Regions from separate parts of the Homo sapiens genome. Here region 1 is linked to region 2. The links come from fine-mapping of genetic effects on gene expression. A gene starts in region 2. The other region holds a variant in brackets. All regions are shown on one strand. Distances are between the middles of the regions. Region 1 overlaps SPDYA (speedy/RINGO cell cycle regulator family member A). Region 2 holds the start of TRMT61B (tRNA methyltransferase 61B).

What was found. PIP is the estimated chance that this variant, and not a neighbour inherited with it, causes the effect. A credible set is the group of variants that fine-mapping cannot tell apart.
Region 1: its variant is the best candidate, but not a certain one, in a credible set for the expression of TRMT61B in left ventricle (GTEx, PIP 0.59).

What each region holds. Positions count from the first base shown.
Region 1 is chr2:28,825,575-28,834,840 of GRCh38, reverse strand. It overlaps SPDYA (speedy/RINGO cell cycle regulator family member A), which reads right to left. Exons shown (of 8, transcript NM_182756.4): 6 at 5,522-5,693. Among named protein-coding and RNA genes, the nearest start is that of SPDYA, 19 kb to the right of the region's middle. The variant C/G (reference allele first, on the strand shown) is at 4,003.
Region 2 is chr2:28,865,949-28,875,214 of GRCh38, reverse strand. It overlaps TRMT61B (tRNA methyltransferase 61B), which reads left to right and starts at 4,906. Exons shown (of 7, transcript NM_017910.4): 1 at 4,906-5,636. The coding sequence starts at 4,938. RefSeq lists enhancers at 4,564-4,713, 4,944-5,113, 4,728-5,252, 5,882-6,396, 6,397-6,912.

The DNA.
Region 1 (9,266 bases), 40 kb after region 2:
CCAATTGAAATGTACAATTCAATGATATTCAATATATTCAGAGTTAAGCAACCATAACCACGGTCAATTTTGAAGCATTTTCATCACTCTATATATAAAGCAATCACACTCCATTTTCTCCCTTCTCTCAGCCCATAACAACTACTAATCTACTTTCTGTCTTTGAATTTGTCCATTCTGGACCTTTCATATAAATGGAATCATACAATATGTCGTCCTTTGTGACAGGCTTCTTTTATGTAGCATAATCTTTTCAAGGTTATCTGCGTTGTAGCTTGAACCAGGTACTTCATTCCTTTTAATTGCCAAGTAATATTTTATTGTAGGGATATACCTTATTTTGTTTATCCATTCTATCAGCTGATGGACATTCAGGTTGTTTGTACTTTGGCTATTATGAATACTGCTATGAACATTCATGTTAAAGTTTTTTGTGTGGACATAGTTTTGTTTTTACCCTTTGGCATATATAGCCAGGACTAGACTTGCTGGATCATATGGTAACTCTATGTTAACCTTGTGAGGAATTGCCAGACTGTTATGCAAAGCAACTTCCCCATTTTACATTTCCATAAGAAGTGTATGAGGGTTCCAGTATCTCCACATCCTCTTCAATACTTTTATTTTTGTTTTGTTTATAGCCATCATAGTGGGTGTGAAGTAATATCTCATCGTGCTTTTGATTTGCAATCCCTGACAGCTAATGATGTTGAACATCTTTTCAAGTGTGTGTGTGTGTGTGTGTGTGTGTGTGTGTGTTTTAGCAATTTGCATACCTTCTTTGGAGAAATGTCTATTTGGATTATTTGCCCATTTTTTAAATTGATTGTCTTTTTATTATTAAGTTGTAAAGCTCTTTATATTTCTAGATACAAGACCCTTATCAAATAGATGACTTGCAAAAAATTTTTTTCATTTTATAGGTCATCTCTTCACTTGGTATCCTTTGAAGGACAAAAGGTTTTAATTTTGATGATGTCTATTTTATATTTTCTTTTGTTACATGTTACTTTTGGTATCATGTCTAAGAAACCTAATTCAAGGTCACGAAGACTTACCCCTATGTTTTCTTCTAAGAGTTTTATGGTTTTAGGTTTTACATTTAGGTCTTTGATCCATTTTGAGTTAATTTTTATATATGGTATAAACCAGAGGTTCGGCTTCATTCTTTTGCTTGTAGATATCCAGTTGTCATAGCACCATTTGTTGAAAAGACTACATTTTCCCCATTGAATTTTCTTGGCACCCTTGTCAAAATTCAATTGAACATAATTGTGACGGTATATTTCTGGACACTTCTATTCCATGGAGGGAGATACTACTCTATATAAGGTGATAAGGAAAGGTCTCTCTGAGGTGACATTTAAGCAGAATCCTGAACGTAGTTAGGAAGTGAAGCATACTGATATTTGGGGAACAACATTCCAGGTTATGGGAATAGTAAGTGCAAAGACCATGAGATGGGAGTGTAACTGGTATCTTTGAGGTAAGGAGGCCGGTGTAGCTTGAGTGGAAGAGCAAAGATATGAGATGAAATCAAAGAGATAAGGGAGGAGGGCTGATAGACCATGTAGGACCATGACAGGGACTTTCTCTTTTACCCTATGTAAGGCTGGAAGACACTGGAGGCTTTTGAGTAGAGAAGTCATGATTTGACTTACCTAAAAAAAAAATTACTCTGGCAGCTGTATGAAGAATAGATTATAGCTGCATATGGTGGCTCACACCTGCAATCCCAGCACTTTGGGAGGCCAAGGTGGGAGGATTGCTTAGGCACAGGATTTTGAGACCGGCCTGGGCAACATAGCGAGACCCCATCTCTACAAAAAATAAATTAGCTGGGCATGGTGGCACATGCCTGTAGTCCCAGCTACTTGGGAGGCTAAGGCAGGAGATCGCTTGAGTCTAGGAGGTTAAGGCTGCAATGAGCCATGATCTCACCACTGCACTACTGCCTGGGTAACAGAGTAAGACCCTGTCTTTAAAAAAAAAAAAAAGGTGGGGGTGGGAGAGACTATTTGGAAACTTATGCCAGTAATCAAGGCAAGAGGTGACAATAAAAGTATAGTATTAGTGGTGGAGGTGGTGAGAAATGGTAGGATGCTGGATATTTTTTCAAGGTACAAATATAAGAAAAAGAAGGGTAAATGGAAATAATTTTTTGGCCTGAGCAACTAAAACAATAGAGTTGCTACTTATGAATATGTGGAAGACTGCAGGAGGAGCAAATCTGGAGGTCTGTGTCAAGGAGTCAGGAGTTCAATTTTAGGCACGTTAAGTTTGAGGTATCAATTAGACAAAAAATACCAACAGGCGATTTCGTATGCAGATCTGGAATTGGAAGAAATTATTAGTTGTTAGTGTTAAAGCCTTGAGAGTGAATGGGGTCACCTAATAAGTTAATACCAATAGAAAGGAGAAGAGATCCTAAGTCTGAGCCCTGGGGCACTCTAATGAAGTTGGTGAGGTGAAAAGGAACTGGCAAAAATGACTGAAAAAAACCTGGTATCCTCAAAACCAAGTGAAGACAGTGTTTCAGGAAGAAATGAGGGATAGTGTCAAATGCTGCTAAATTGAGTAGATTGAGGAATACAAATTAACCTTGGGATTTGGCCATATAGAGATATTTGGTGGCCTGACAAGTTTCTACAGAATGATAGGAAAAATACTTTATATAACAGGTTCAAACAGAATGGAAAGAACAGAAGTAGAGATAGAATACAAGCAATTCTTCAAGGAGTTTGGTTATAAGGGAGGCAAAGCAGAGAAATGTAGTGGTAGCTGGGGGATAAAGTTTTTGTTTTTGTTTTTATTGATGGATATCTTAGAGCAATTCTACATTCTGATGGCAGTGATCCAATAAAATAAAAAATGTGAAATGCTGGAAAGGGGACAATTACTGGAATGTGATGTCCTTGAGAAAGCAAGAAAAGATGAGATCTAGTGCACAAGTAGAGGGAATGGATTTGGATAGGAGCAAAGATCGTTCTTTCACAGTAACAAAGGGAAGGCAGAATATAGGGGTACGCATGTAGGTAGGATAGACGATAAGATGTGAGCACGTGGACAGTCTGTTCTACTGCTTCTCTTTTCTCAGTAAAAGAGAGTAATGCATGATTGTTGTAATTGAAGTGTGAGGACAGAGATGGGAGATATTAGAAGTGTACTAGATTTTTTACTTCATTACATTTACAGTTTATTGTTTAGACAATAGATAAGCAAATAAATAATTACAAATTTTATTCAGTGCTACAGAAGGAAACAAAGTATTGTGATAAGGATAATGGAATTAAATTCATTTAAATAAGGTGACCTTTTTGAAGAGGAAAAACAAGTTCCATTAATTTTTTTAAATGTTGCTAAATTTTAAAATTATGAAAAAGCATTAGGAATAATATAACAAACATCCATATCCCTACTGCCTAGAATTAATAGATGTAATACTGCTATTTTTGCTTCAAGCCTTTTTTATTTTTATTTTTTGGGACAGGGTCTTGCTCTGTTGCTGAGGCTGGAGGGCAGTGGCATAATCATGGCTCACTGCAGCCTGAATCTTCTGGGCTCAGGTGATTCTCACACCACAGCCTCTCAAGTAGCTGGGACTACAGGTGTGCACCACCACGCCTACCTAATTTTTTGTATTTTTTGTGGAGACAGTGTTTTGCCATGTTACCCAGGATGGTCTTGAACTCTTGGACTCAAGTGATCCAGGCCACCTTAGCCTCCAAAAGTGCTGGGATTACAGGTGTGAGCTACCATGCCTGCCTGCCCTTTTTAAATTAAAAGAAATAATATAGTTTCTGGTATGTATTTACTAAGTGCTCACTAAATCAATGTATATTAATGAATAAGTTAATTCTATCAAATCTTAAGATTTGCAAGTATATCAACATTTATCAAATTTTTCTTAACTAATACTAGAGCTTACAGTGACCACTGCTTTCCATTTAATTTTCTACTCTAGAATTTTTCTGTGGTTTGAAATAGTGACTTTATTAAAAA[C/G]CAGAACATTTGGTAAAATAACTGATTATTAAATTTTTAGTGTCTTGCTGATTTATCCTAAAAGATTTGGCATTAAGGAAACAATATATTCTTTGTGAAAAGAGTTATGATTTTAAAGAATATTTAAATTGTATACCATTTAATATATGTGTTAAATAGTGTTTCAATTTTGGGAACCTGAAATTTCACATACTTTATTGAGCAGAAATTATTATTCAACTCCAGTGTTATTGTAATCCTAAATAAGATATTTTGGTTTGTTCATATCACCCTTTTTCAATATATTGATGATCCTTTAGACAGAAGAAATACACTAAAATAAAAGTACTTACTATAAGCCGGGCACGGTGGCTCACGCCTGTACTCCCAGCACTTTGGGAGGCCGAGGCGGGCGGATCACAAGGTCAGGAGATTGACACTATCCTGGCTAACACGGCGAAACCCCGTCTCTACTAAAAATACAAAACATTAGCCAGGCATGGTGGCGGGCGCCTGTAGTCCCAGCTAATTGGGAGGCTGAGGCAAGAGAATGGCGTGGACCCGGGAGGCGGAGCTTGTAGTGAGCAGAGATCGCACCACTGCACTCCAGCCTGGGTGACAGAGCAAGACTCTGTCTCAAAAAAAAAAAAAAAAAAAAAGTACTTACTATAGAAGTAGGCTGCTCTGAAAAATAGAAATGACAATTTGTTTGTTTGTTTTTGAGATGGAGTTTCGCTCTGTTGCCCAGGCTGGAGTACAGTGGCACCATCTCAGCTCACCGCAACCTCTGCCTCCTGGGTTTAAGTGATTCTCCTGCCTCAGCCTCCCAAGTAGCTGGGATTACAGGCACCAGCCACCACATTTGGTTAATTTTTGTATTTTTCTTTTTCTTTTCTTTTCTTTTTTTTTTTTTTTTGAGATGGAGTCTCGCTCTGTCGCCCAGGCTGGAGTGCAGTGGCGCGATCTCTGCTCACTGCAAGCTCCGCCTCCTGGGTTCACACCATTCTCCTGCCTCAGCCTCCCAAGTAGCTGGGACTACAGGCGCCTGCCACCACGCCCGGCTAATTTTTTTTGTATTTTTAGTAGAGACGGGTTTCACCATGTTGGCCAGGATGGTCTTGATCTCCTGACCTCGTGATCTGCCCGCCTCGGCCTCCCAAAGTGCTGGCATTACAGGCGTGAGCCACCGCACCCAGCCTAATTTTTGTATTTTCAGTAGAAATGGGGTTTCACCATGTTGGCCAGGCTGGTCTCAAACTCCTGACCTCAGGAGATCCACCCGCCTCAGCCTCTCAAAGTGCTGGGATTACAGGCGTGAGCAGGGCTTGCCCGGTTGACAGTTTTTAGTTATGGTGATAATAAGACAGCAACATTGTAATACACAAGTTGTATTCATGGTAATGATCAATGGTCTACTCCACATATTAGAAAAAAAAAAAAAACCCAGAATACCAAAACATTAGAAGCACATTAAAAAACAAGGATAATAAGATAAACAGAAAACAAAGATTACATATATAAAGCATTTTAAAATTCTTACCTCCTCACAACATCGCCTGCTTACAATAGCCCTATAGTCAATTCTATCCCAGAGCTGGTCCCTTAACTTTAAGAAATTAGGGAACAATTTTCTCCAGTTTTTCCCTAAAGCCCATGGAAAAATTTCGTACTTGGTTTCTTCTTCATCTTCTTCAACTGTATTAGCCAGATACCTAACAAAGAAGATCACAACCCAAAAAAGAAATGGGTAAAGGACAGAAACAGGTAGTTCACATACACCAAGACATAAAAGTGGTTTATAAACACATGAAAGGTGTTCAACGTTAATTAAAGAAATGCAGTTCAAAAATAGAGATACATGTAGTTAATTTTACCTTGTTGGGTTCTAGGTATTTCTTATTCCTACAAATCTTGAGCTTTGTTCTGGGATGCAGTTAGTTACTTTGAAATAGTCTGATTCTTTCAGATGTTGCTTTTATGATTTTTTTAGGTGGATCTGGAACAATGTTCAGTCTGGGGCTAGTTATTCCTCACTACTGAGGCAAGACCTTCCTGAGTACTCTTCTCAATGCTCCATGAATTATGAATCTTTTCAGCCTGGCTGGTGGGAACAGCCACTATTTGCAGCCGTATGTGAATGTTAGGCAGTATTCCTCCTAATCTTTTCTTAACATCTTTCCTCAGATTCAGGTAATTTTCTTATACACATATGAAACTCAGCATTCTGCTGAATGCTTGATGGGGACCAGGCATGCACAGAAGCAGGAAAACATGACTCATCATAAGGCGACTAATCAAAATCAACCCCAAACTGATACCCATGGTTGACATAAAAGATAAGGACACTGGAACAGTTATAACTATTCTGTATGTTCAAAAAGTTAAGTAGACATATTGAAAATGTACTTTTAGAGATGAAAACTACAATGTGTACAATGAAAAATACACTGATTGGGATTAATGGCAGATTAAATATTACAGAGAAAACATCTGTGAATTGAAGACACAATAGAAAGTATTCAAGATGAAATACACAGAGAAAAAAGAAACAAAAATCATAAACACAAGATGAGGGCCGGGCGTGGTGGCTCACTCCTGTAATCTCAGAACTTTGGGAGGCCAAGGTGGGCGGATTGCTTGAGGCCAGGAGTTCAAGATCTGCCTGGCCAACACAGTGAAACCCCATCTCTCCTAAAAATACAAACATTAGCTGGGCGTGGTGGCCTGCGCCTGTAATCCCAGCTACTTGGGAGGCTGAGGCAGGAGAATCGCTTGAACCCGGAAGGCAGAGGTTACAGTGAGCCACCGAGATTGCAACACTGCACTCCAGCCTGGGTGACGGGGAGACTCTGTCTCAAAAAGAAAAAAGAAAAAAGAAAAAAATAAGAAAAAATAAACACAGCATCAGTTTGATGTGGGACTTCAAGAAACAGGCGGAATTGGAGACTCTGAAGGCCAGTATCAATAACAATGAAGGATTCTTTCAATGCACTGTAATCTGAATAGGGCAGACAGAAAATGAGGTGGACAGAAGACATTTGAAGGAGTAACAGCTGAAAGTTTTTGAAATTTAATAAAAACTATAAACCTACAAAGAAGTTCAATGAACCTCAAAGCACATGAAACATGAAGAAAATTAAACCAGTGAACACCACAATCAAATTGCTCAAAACCAGTGATAAAGAGTAAATCTTAAAAGTACTCAGAGAAAAAAAAACCATTAGATAACACAGGCACCATGATTAGGATGGGGTAGATTTCTCATTGGAAATAGTACAAGTCTCACAGATGACTTTCCAAGAAAAACAGGCAACTTACAATAAAAATATTACAAAACACATAAGGGAACAAGGTACCAAGAACAGTAACAGACCCTGAAATCTGAAAGTAATGGAACAGACACAGAAAGTAAGAATAACTATTTCCAGTAAAGATAATACGATACATGGAAAAGTATATTTGAAAAAGAAGAAAATAGAACTTTTATAAATGGAAAATTTTATAATGAAATTAGCATATTAGACATAAGCTGAAGATAAAATTAGTGAACTGAGAGATAAGTCTAAATAAATGATCTAAAATGCAGCCCAAAGAAACACAGATAGAAAATAGCAAAGATTGGCCCGGCTCGGTGGCTCACGCCTGTAATCCCAGCACTTTGGGAGGCTGAGGCGGGTGGATCACGAAGTCAGGAGATTGAGACCATCCTGGCTAACACGGTGAAACCCCGTCTCTACTAAAAAATACAAACAAATTAGCCAGGCGTGGTGGCGGGCGCCAGTAGTCCCAGCTACTCGGGAGGCTGAGGCAGGAGAATGGCGTGAACCCGGAGGCGGAGCTTGCAGTGAGCCGAGCACTCCAGCTTGGGCGACAGAGCGAGACTCCTTCTTAAAAAAAAAAAAAAAAAAAAGAAAGAAAAGAAAAAAGAAAATAGCAAAGATGGGGATGGGTCCAGTGGCTCACACCTGTAATCCCAACACTTTAGAAGGCTGAGGCAGGTGGAGTGCTTGAGCTGAGGAGTTCGAAACCCAGCCTGGGCAACATGGAGAAACCCCATCTCTACAAAAAAATACAAAAATTAGCTGGGTGTTGTGGTGAATGCCTGTGGTCCCAGCTATTCGGGAGATTGAGGTGGGAGGATCCCTTGATCCAGGGAGGTGGAGATCGCAGTGAGCTGAGATCACACCACTGCACTCCAGCCTGGGCAACAGTTAGACTGTCTCAAAAAAAAAAAAAAAAAAAAAAAAAGAGAGAAAGAAAGAAAAAGAAAATTTCAAAGATAAGTGATGGGGAAGACCGAGCGAGGCATAACAAGTTTAATTGGTTTCAAAAGGAGAAAAAGGAGATAGCAGAGGAAGAGAAATATTTGAAGAGACAGTGGATAGAATTTTCTGAGTTGTCTGTTGAAAGGCATCAATCTTCAGGCCAGGCTCAGTGGCTCACGTCTGTAATCCCAGTACTTTGGGAGGCTTAGGCGGGTGGATTACCTGAGGTCAGGAGTTTGAGGCCAGCTTGGCCAATATGGTGAAACCCTGTCTCTACTAAAAATACAAAAGTTAACCAGGCATGGTGGTCTGTGCCTGTAGTCCCAGCTACTTGGGAGATTGAGGTGGAAGGATTGCTTAAACCTGGGTGGCAGAGGTTGCAGTGAGCCAAGATGGTGCCAATGCACTCCAGCCTGGGTGACAGAGCAAGACTCCATCTCAAAAAACAAAAACGAAAAACATCAATCCTTAATCTTCAGAAAGGTTACCAAATCCCAAGTAAGTTATTAAAAAGAAACCAGTGCCAAACACCAAAGAAAAAGAGGTCTTAAAAGCAGCCAGAAGGCCAGGTGTGCAGCTCATGCCTGTAATTCCAGCACTTTGGGAAGGATGGCTTGAAGTCAGGAGTTTGAGACCAGTCTGGGCAACATGGCAAAACTCCATCTTTAAAAAAAAATAAAAAATAAAAAATTAGCCGGGTGTCGTGCTATGTGCCTGTGGTCCCAGCTACTCAGGAGGCTGAGGCAAGAAGATCACTTTAACCCTAGAGGTAGAGGTTGCAGTGAGCCAAGATCATGCTGCTGCACTCCAGCCTGGGTGACAGAGTGAGACCCTGTCTCAAAAAAAAAATTAAGAACCTCCTATATGTTAGTAATTGAAAGATGAAATAAAATGTTATATGTTCCTTGCCCATAAGGAGCCTACAATTAAGTAAAGAAGGCAAGTAAGCATGAAACAAATAATTGTGAAAGGTAATGTGGAAGAATGATAATAGAAGTTCAGAGTCTTATAAGAATACAT
Region 2 (9,266 bases):
TACAGACACAGAACAAAATACATGATAACTATTAAATATAATTGCACCATGTTTATACATTGAGTTATTTAGTATAGTAGTCTAGGTATCAGTGCTGTTAATTTTCTCATTTTCTACTTTCTTCATTCATTTATTCAACAAATGTTTATTGAGAGATGTTTTGTGCCAGGCACTGGAATTATAATGATGAACAAGACATAGTCTTCTCCCCAACAATTATATCCTCTATCCTGGGAAATGATAAATAGCAATTTCCATATAGTATGACATGTGCCATGATAGATCTAAAGACAGGACTCTGGCTGGATGTGGTGACTCTTGCCTATAATTCCAGCATTTTGGGAGGCTGAGGAGGGAGGATTGCTTGAGGCTAGGAATTGAGACTGCCCTGGTCAACATAGTAAGACCCTGCATCTACAAAAAATTTTTTTTAAATTATGGCCAACCGCGTGGCTCACACCTGTAATCCCAGCACTTTGGAAGGCCAAGGCAGGTGGATCACTTGAGGTCAGGAGTTTAAGACCAGCCTGCCAACATGGTGAAACCCCGTCTCTACTAAAAATAGAAAAATTAGCCAGGGGTGGTGGCATGAGCTTGTAATCCCAGTTACTCGGGAGGCTGAGGCAGGAGGATCACTTGAACCCGGGAGGCAGACCTTGTAGTGAGTCAAGAGAATGCTACTGCAGTCCAGCCTGGGTGATGGGAGTGAAACCCTGTAAAACAAAACAAAACAAAACAAAACAAAACAAAACAAACAAACAAACAAAACAAAAAAACAAAAAAAAACAAAAAACATTGGCTCACGCATGTATTCCTAGCACTTTGGGAGGCTGAGGCAGGTGGATCACCTGAAGTCAGGAGTTCGAGACCAGCCTGGCCAACATGGTAAAACCCCATCTCTACTAAAAATACAAAAATTTGCTGGGCATGGTGGTGGGTGCCTGTAATCCCAGCTACTTGGGAGGCTGAGGCAGGAGAATCGCTTGAACCCAGAATGGGGAGGTTGCAGTGAGCTGAGATTGCGCCATTGCACTCCAGCCTGGGCGACAAGAGCAAGACTCTGTCTTTAAAAAAAAAAAAAAAATTGCCATGCATTGGTGGCACATGCCTGTAGTCCCAGCTACGCTGGAAGCTGAATCAGGGCAATTGCTTGAGCCCAGGAGTTCGATGCTGCAGTAGGCTATGATGGCACCACTGCACTCCACCCTGGGTGACAGAGCAAGACCCTATTTCTAAAATAAAAACAAAAACAGGCAGGACCCACTGGGAGCAGAAGTGAAAGGCACTACTCTAGGTCTTTTGGGATTGGTACAAAGCCACCATTCCAGTGGTACTGTGAGGTTGATAGCTGGAGGACAAGGGAAAACTACACAAAATAGAGTGAAGAAGCATGTGCAAAGAGCTGGAGGAGATCACCTGTGGAACTAGAACTGGTTGCCTGTTTGGAGATTTTAAAATGCCAGCCATCAGCCATGGTATTTATTGAGAACTATTCAGATTTTAAAGTAAATGCTTAACTAAATGTCACTAGAAAACAGTATTTTTCTTAGCCTTATAATGTAAACATGGGCTGGGCGCGGTAGCTTACGCCTGTAATCCCAGCATTTTGGGAGGCCGAGGTGGGTGGATCACCTGAGGTCAAGAGTTCAAGACCAGCCTGGCCAACATGGTGAAACACAGTCTCTACTAAAAATACAAAAAATTAGCCAGGCGTGGTGGCACAGGCCTGTAATCCTAGCTACTCAGGAGGCTGAGGCAGGAGAATCACCTGAACCCAGGAGGCAGAGGTTGCAGTGAGCTGAGATCGTGCTATTGTACTCCAGACTGGGTGACAAGAGCAAAGTTCCGTCTCAGTAAATAAATTAAGTAAGTAAACATGATAAGTTGACGATGTATCACAAATTCATCATCAAGATAATAGTTTCAGAGTGCAGGCTGACAATTTCATAGGGAAAGCAGAAGTAAAGGATAGCCAGAAATAGAAAGGCCCACATAGTGACTTCTTTTTTAAGAATTTCAATGCTCTGAAAGATCATGAATAAATAATATTATTTTCCAAAATGTACTAATGTATTTCATTAGATGTGTATAAAACAAAATACGTATAACATTGTGGCTGTTATTTAAACAATGGAAAGAAAGTGATGCCATTTTCCATTTACAATTTGTTTTAAAAATCAAAGATATGTAAATTTACTTCCCATATTTTGTTAGTGTATTTTCTTTTTTTCCAATTCCTGCTTATTCTGAAATAACAGCCAAGTATCATTTGATAATACTCAAGAAATAATAAAGTAGGTATGATAACTTTTAAAACCACCATAGGGCTTAGAGTTCAGGAGGTTCCGGCTCAGACCCATGTTTGGCAATGATAATCTCCTTAATTTCAAGAATTTTATAACCAAAAATGAGTTTTTGTCTTAGAAAGCCTATCACAAGAAAAAGTAGTGAGAAAAGCCTACGACTCCAGAAACTATTGGTCATAACTTTTCCTAAAAAGCAAACTACACAAAGTGAGACACGCAGTTGGGGTGTGGAGAGAGCAGTTTCTTTATTCATTTTTAGAATTAGAAGGGAGAAATTTGGCTGGGTGCAGTGGCTCATGGCTGTAATTCCAGCTCTTTGGGAGACTGAGGTGGGTGGATCACCTGAGGTCAAGAGTTCAAACCAGCGTGGCCAACATGGCGAAACCCCGTCTCTACTAAAAATACAAAAATTAGCTGGGTATGGTGGTGCACACCTGTAATCCCAGCTATCTGGGAGGCTGAGGCAGGAGAATTGCTTGAACCTGGGAGGCAGACATTGCAGTGAGCCGAGATCATACAACTGCACTCCAGCCTGGGCGAGAGTGAGACTCTGTCTCACAAAGAAAAAAAAAGGAAAAAAAGAAGGGAGAAATCCTGTTGATGGAGTTTATGGTGGCTGATGTCCTAGAAAGTACTGATTAGAAAGTATTAATTTATGTCTTAGAAAGTAATAACGGCCAGGCGCGGTGGCTCATGCCTGTAATCCCAGCACTTTGGGAGGCCGAGGCGGGTGGATCATGAGGTCAGGAGTTCGAGACCAGCCTGGCCAACATGGTGAAACCGAGTCTCTACTAAAAATACAAAAATTAGCCTGGCATGGTGGCAGGTGCCTGTAACCCCAGCTACTCGGGAGGCTGAGGCAGGAGAATCGCTTGAACCCAGGAGGCAGAGGTTGCAGTGAGCCAAGATCGTGTCATTGCACTCCAGCCTGGGCAACAAGAGCAAGACTCTGTCTCAAATAAAAAAAAAAAAAAAGAATAACAAGATTTATTTCATCAAATTTAAACAGAATTCACATTGACTTCACAGCCCTTTGAATATACTTGGACTTTAAGTTCAACTGTGCTGTTGACCAGTCTTTCCAAACGGTGTTACAGTACAAAGAGCATGGGCTGCTGAACCAGACTGACTAAATAGGAAACTCTGCAATGCCACTTGTCAGCTATGCATCTTGACCAACTTATTATTATTATGTTGCACGTGGGTCTTGAAATCCTGGGCTCAAGCAATCCTCTGGCCTGGGTCTCCCAAAGTGTTGGGGTTACAGGTGTGAGCCACCACTCCTGGTTTCCCCAAATTATTTAATCTCCCTGGGCCAGTTCTTTTACTCATAAAATGGATTTGTTTCTAACACAGAATTGTTGGAAACTTAAATGAGTGTCTAACGTGCCTCGTATTGCCAGACTCTCAATAAACTTTTGCCCAGTCAACTAATATCCAGCAAAGAGGCTAGCGATTTTTCTTTTTTTTTTGAGACAGAGTTTTGCTGTGTCGCGCAGGCTGGAGTGCAGTGGTAGCTCGATCTTGGCCCGCTGCAACCTCCGCCTCCTGGGTTCAAGCTATTCTCATGCCTCAGCCTCCCTTGTAGCTGGTATTACAGGCGTGCACCATCGCGCCCGACTAATTTTTTTCCCCCGAGAGGAGTTTTGCTCAGTCGCCCAGGCTGGAGTGCAGTGCCGAGATCTCAGCTCACTGCAACGTCTGCCTCCCGGGTTCAAGCGCTTCTCCTGCCTCAGCCTCCCGAGTAGCTGGGATTACAGGTGCGTGCCTCCACGCCCAGCTAATTTTTGTATTTTTAGTAGAGACGGGGTTTCACCACATTTGCCAGGCTGGTCCCGAACTCCTGACCTCAAATGAGCCGCTTGCCTCGGTCGGCTTCCCAAAATGCTGGGAGGCTAGTGATATTTAACGCTAAATAACTCTGGCCTCCAAAGATACCTGTTTCCATTTTAAGACACTTCTATTTCGTTTTGGGAGGGTAAACTAGTTATATTTTAATAATGAAAACATGTGTTACATAAGCACATAGTGAGTACTCGAATCAACCTCGGACTCTCCGGGCGTGAGGGGTGGGTGAGGGGACCGGCAGGTGGTCACAGCCCCATCAAAAGGGAGTTGGGGCTGGGGGATGTCGCGGTCAACTGGGAAAGGAGAGCCAATCAGCAAGTGGCGCGTCCCACGCCGTCTGTCAAATGCATCTGGGGGTTAGCTGTACTCATACATCTTGTGGGTGACTAGGTGACTTCCGTGTTCAAGACACAAGCGAGCTAAGCCTGGGATTTCAGTTTGCACAGCGCTTTGTTAAGTTTTGTCTCTCAATCTTGCTGTCCAAGAGCGAACCTGGAGGTCGTCTGTTAGCGGTAAATTCTTTACCCACATTCCGAAAAGGAAAACGGCGGCCGCGCGCGAGGACATATTCCTTGGATGGTCACTCAACCAGGACTCCGCTGCTCCCGCGCCCTAGCTTGACCTAGCGCACCGCCCCCTCCCCGACGCAGGCGCAGTCGCGGAGCTGTAGAGCCCCACGCAGCTGCAGAGCCATCGGGCTGCTGCGCCATGCGCGCGACTGGGAAAGAAGGGGTCGCGCTAGGCTTGCGTCACTCGTCTGCGACGGCGCCTTCGCGAAACACTATGCTAATGGCATGGTGCCGCGGTCCTGTCTTGCTGTGCCTGCGGCAGGGGCTCGGAACCAATTCATTCCTGCACGGCCTGGGGCAGGAGCCCTTCGAGGGAGCTCGGTCACTGTGTTGCAGGTCCTCGCCTAGAGACCTGCGAGATGGAGAAAGAGAGCACGAGGCGGCACAAAGGAAAGCCCCAGGAGCAGAGTCTTGCCCATCTCTCCCTCTGAGCATCTCGGACATTGGGACTGGATGTCTTTCGTCACTGGAAAACCTCAGACTGCCGACGCTGCGGGAAGAGTCATCCCCTCGAGAGCTCGAGGACTCGAGCGGAGACCAGGGCCGGTGCGGTCCCACACACCAGGGATCCGAGGATCCTTCGATGCTCTCGCAGGCCCAGTCCGCTACCGAGGTCGAAGAGCGTCACGTCTCCCCTTCTTGTTCAACTTCCAGAGAGAGACCCTTTCAGGCTGGGGAACTGATTTTAGCTGAGACTGGGGAGGGAGAAACAAAATTTAAGAAATTATTTAGGTTGAACAACTTCGGACTCTTAAATAGTAACTGGGGGGCAGTCCCGTTCGGCAAGATCGTGGGGAAGTTCCCCGGCCAGATACTGAGGAGTTCCTTCGGTAAGCAGTACATGCTGAGGAGGCCAGCCTTGGAAGACTATGTAGTATTGATGAAAAGAGGGACTGCCATAACATTCCCAAAGGTAATGCGATGGAGATAAGGTGTGTATTGGTTTCAGGAGGGGCAAAGACAGATGCAGTACTCAGTCCTGATTAATGTATTCAAAGACATCTCAGAACGTTTGGATTTTTTATTGTACTCAGGCTTTTAAAATAAACCAATGGTTATAACTTTTACATATCATGATGAAAATTAGCATTAGGGAACGGCTAGATTTTAATTTTAACTTAGGAGTCTCGAGTCCCTTATTTGTAAAATGTGGATAATAGCTCAACTTTCTGTTAGGGTGATGTGAACTCACTACGTACATAATAAGTACTAATTTTGTTCCCCATTACTCTTAAGTTTATAACTTCAGGACTCAAGAGAATGTTGAACTCTTAGGGAACAATTTTTTAGTACTACTATGATGATATTTTAATATTCAATAATCATGTTACAAGAGTATATTAACAATAGGTACATTACGGTGCTTTTCCCCTTTTAGGGAAGAAATAGAGTTTTATATTACAATAGCTAACATTCAACACCAAACATAAAATGACTATTCTTTATTAAAAAGTTAACTGCCTAAAGCCTAGTTTCAGTCTTTTTTTTAAGACAAGTTCTCACTCTGTCATCCAGGCTGGAGTGCAGTGTTGCGATCTTGGCTCCCTGCAACCTCTGCCTCCCGGGTTCAAGCGATTCTCCCACCACAGCCTCCTGAGTACCTGGGACTACAGGCATGCACCACCACCCCGGGCTAATTTTTGTAGAGACGGGGTTTCGCCTTATTGCCCAGGCTGGTCTTCAACTCGTGGCCTCAAGTGATCCGCCCACCTCGGCCTCCCAGTGCTGGGATTACAGGCGGGAGCCACCGCGCCCAGCCCTAGTTTGAAGCTTATGCTAATCATCTATTGCTAGCAGATTATTTCAATCCTTAGTCACAGTCCTTGAGTAGAATGTTCCTGTGTAACACAACTCCTCCTCCTTTCTCCAGATCAGGATTCATTCGTTATTTATTCAGCAAATTGACTGCCTTCCATACTCAAGGCACTGTTTAGGGAAGTATAGTGTTGAACTGCAGTCCTCACCCTCAACATAGACCTTACATTCTAGAAGGGGTGACAAAGAACAAACAAGTAAATGAAAGAATAAGGTCATTTCCAGTAGTGTTAAGTGTCATGAAGACAAATATATTAACAATGACATTGTTTTGGGTGACCTGGGGTATGAGCATACTTTATGTCAGGTGAGGAGAGATGGTCTCCAAGGAGGTACACTTGATAGGAAACCTAAATAAGGAAGAGCTTGCCTTGTAAACAGATCTAGGAAGAGAATTGTTCTTGCAAAGGGAGGAATGCTGCAGAGTTTCTGTTGTGGCCTCAATGGGTCAGATGAGGGACCCCGTATGAGGTGTGGTTTGAGTATTTTATTCCATTTGTAGTGAAGGACCATTAGAAGGTTCTTAGTAGGAATCCAGTCTGTATTTTAAACGGTCTACCCAGGGACTAAAAAAACTTTCCTCAGAAACTTAGGCTACTGAGGTATAATAAGCTTTTTTTGTTTAAAGACAAGGTCTTGCTATGTCACCCAGGCTAGAGTGCAGTGGCTCAATCACCTCTTACTGTAGCCTGAACCTCCCAGGCTCCAACAATCCTCGCACCTCAACCTCCTGAGTAGCTGGGACCACAGGTGCATGCCACTATGCCTAGCTAATCAAAAATTTTTTTTGTAGAGTTGGGGTCGCCCTAACTTGCCCAGACTGGTCTCAAACTTCTCTAGGCTCAAGGGATCCTCCCTTGAGGGTGCTGGGATTACAGGTGAGAACGACCGCTCCTGGCCATGGTATCATAAGCTCTTGAAGAAAACTAAAAGACTTTCGTAATTTTATCTTGCTTCCCCGTGTCTCCTTTCTCCCCATTAGACAAAATCAGGAGAGATTAGTTACATTTCATGAAGTTATAAATATGCATATTTAGTATACTTTCTGCCTTTCCATTTGTTACAGATAAAAGTCACATTGTTCCACTCTAAGGAGGAATTTAAGTACTAAATTTGTTAGGTGTTGACTTCTCTTTATAGCTTCCAAGTAATGGCTGGAGATAGTTTTACTTCAACTTCTACAACTTTGAAATGCTTGAGGGAATACCTTCACTGATGTTTAAAAACTGATCTCCCTGTTAGAATTACATAATTCCATCTTAGTATTAAAAATATGACCAGAGGCAGAGTGCAGTGGCTCACACTTGTAATCTCAATATTTTGGGAGGCTGAGGCAGGAGGATCATTTGAGCCCAGAAGTTTGAGACCAGCCGGGGCAACATAGGGAGACCTTGTCTCTACAAAAAATAAAAAATTAGCCAGGTATGCTGGCACACACTTGTGGTCCCAGCTACGCAGGAGGCTGAGATGGGAGGATTGTTTGAGCCCAGGAGTTTGAGGCTGCAGCGAGCCATGATCTTGCCACTGCACTCCAGCCTGGGCAACAGTGTAAGATCCTATCTCAAAAAAAAAGTGAGGGGGCAGGTGCCGTCACTCACACCTGTAATCTCAGTGCTTTGTGAGGCCAAGGCAGGAGGATTGCTGGAGGCTAGGAGTTCAAGACTAACCTGGCCAACATAGCAGGACCCCATCTTTATAAAAAATAAAAAAAAAATTAGTTGGGCATGGTGGTACATGCCTGTGGTCCCAGCTACTTTGGAGGCTGAGGTAGGAGGATTGCTTGAGCCCAGAAGTTCGAGGCTGCCGTGAGCTACTATTGCACTACTACACTCCAGTCTGAGTGACAGAGACCCTGTCACCAAGAAAATTTGTTTACTAAATTTAAAAAAACAGTTTTTATTAATATCATCCGTAATATTTGTGTTAACAAAAACAATTCCAATTATATGTTTGGCAAGTGGGTCCTCCAATCTAGTAATAGCATAGTCTCTTTTTTTTCTTATATAGCAGGGCTCCCCTACCCCCAGGCTGAGGACTGGTACCAGTGTGTGGCCTGTAACAGGGAACCGGGCCACACAGCAGGTTAGCGGTGGGTAGTGAGCATTACTGCCTGAGCTCCATCTCTTGTCAGATCAGCCATGGCATTAGATTCTCATAGGAGTGCAAACTCTTGTGAACTGTGCATGCACCAGATCTAGGTTGCATGCTCCTTATAAGAAACTAACTAATGCCTGATGATCTGAGGTGGAACAATTTCATCCCAAAACCATCCCCCTCTCCCCAGTCTGTGGAAAAACTGTCTTCCACGAAACGGGTCCCTAGTGCCCAAAAGGTTGGGGACCGCTGTTATATAGTATCTTAATTCTAAATTAGAAGTTCATCATTTGGCCAGGCACGTTGGCTCACACCTGTAATCCCAGCACTTTAGGAGGCCGAGGCGGGCAGATCACCTGAAATCAGGAGTTTGAGACCAGCCTGGCCAACATGGTGAAACCCCATCTCTACTAAAAATACAAAAAATTAGCTGGGTGTGGTGGTGGGTGCCTGTAATCCCAGCTACTTGGGAGGCTGAAGCAGGAGAATCGCTTGAACCCAGGAGGCGGAGCTTGCAGTGAGCCAAGATTGTACCACTGCACTCCAGCCTGGGTGACAGAGCGAGACTCTGTCCCCCCAAAAATAAGAAGTTCATCATTTTGAGCTGGGCACACTGGCTCACACCTGTAATCCC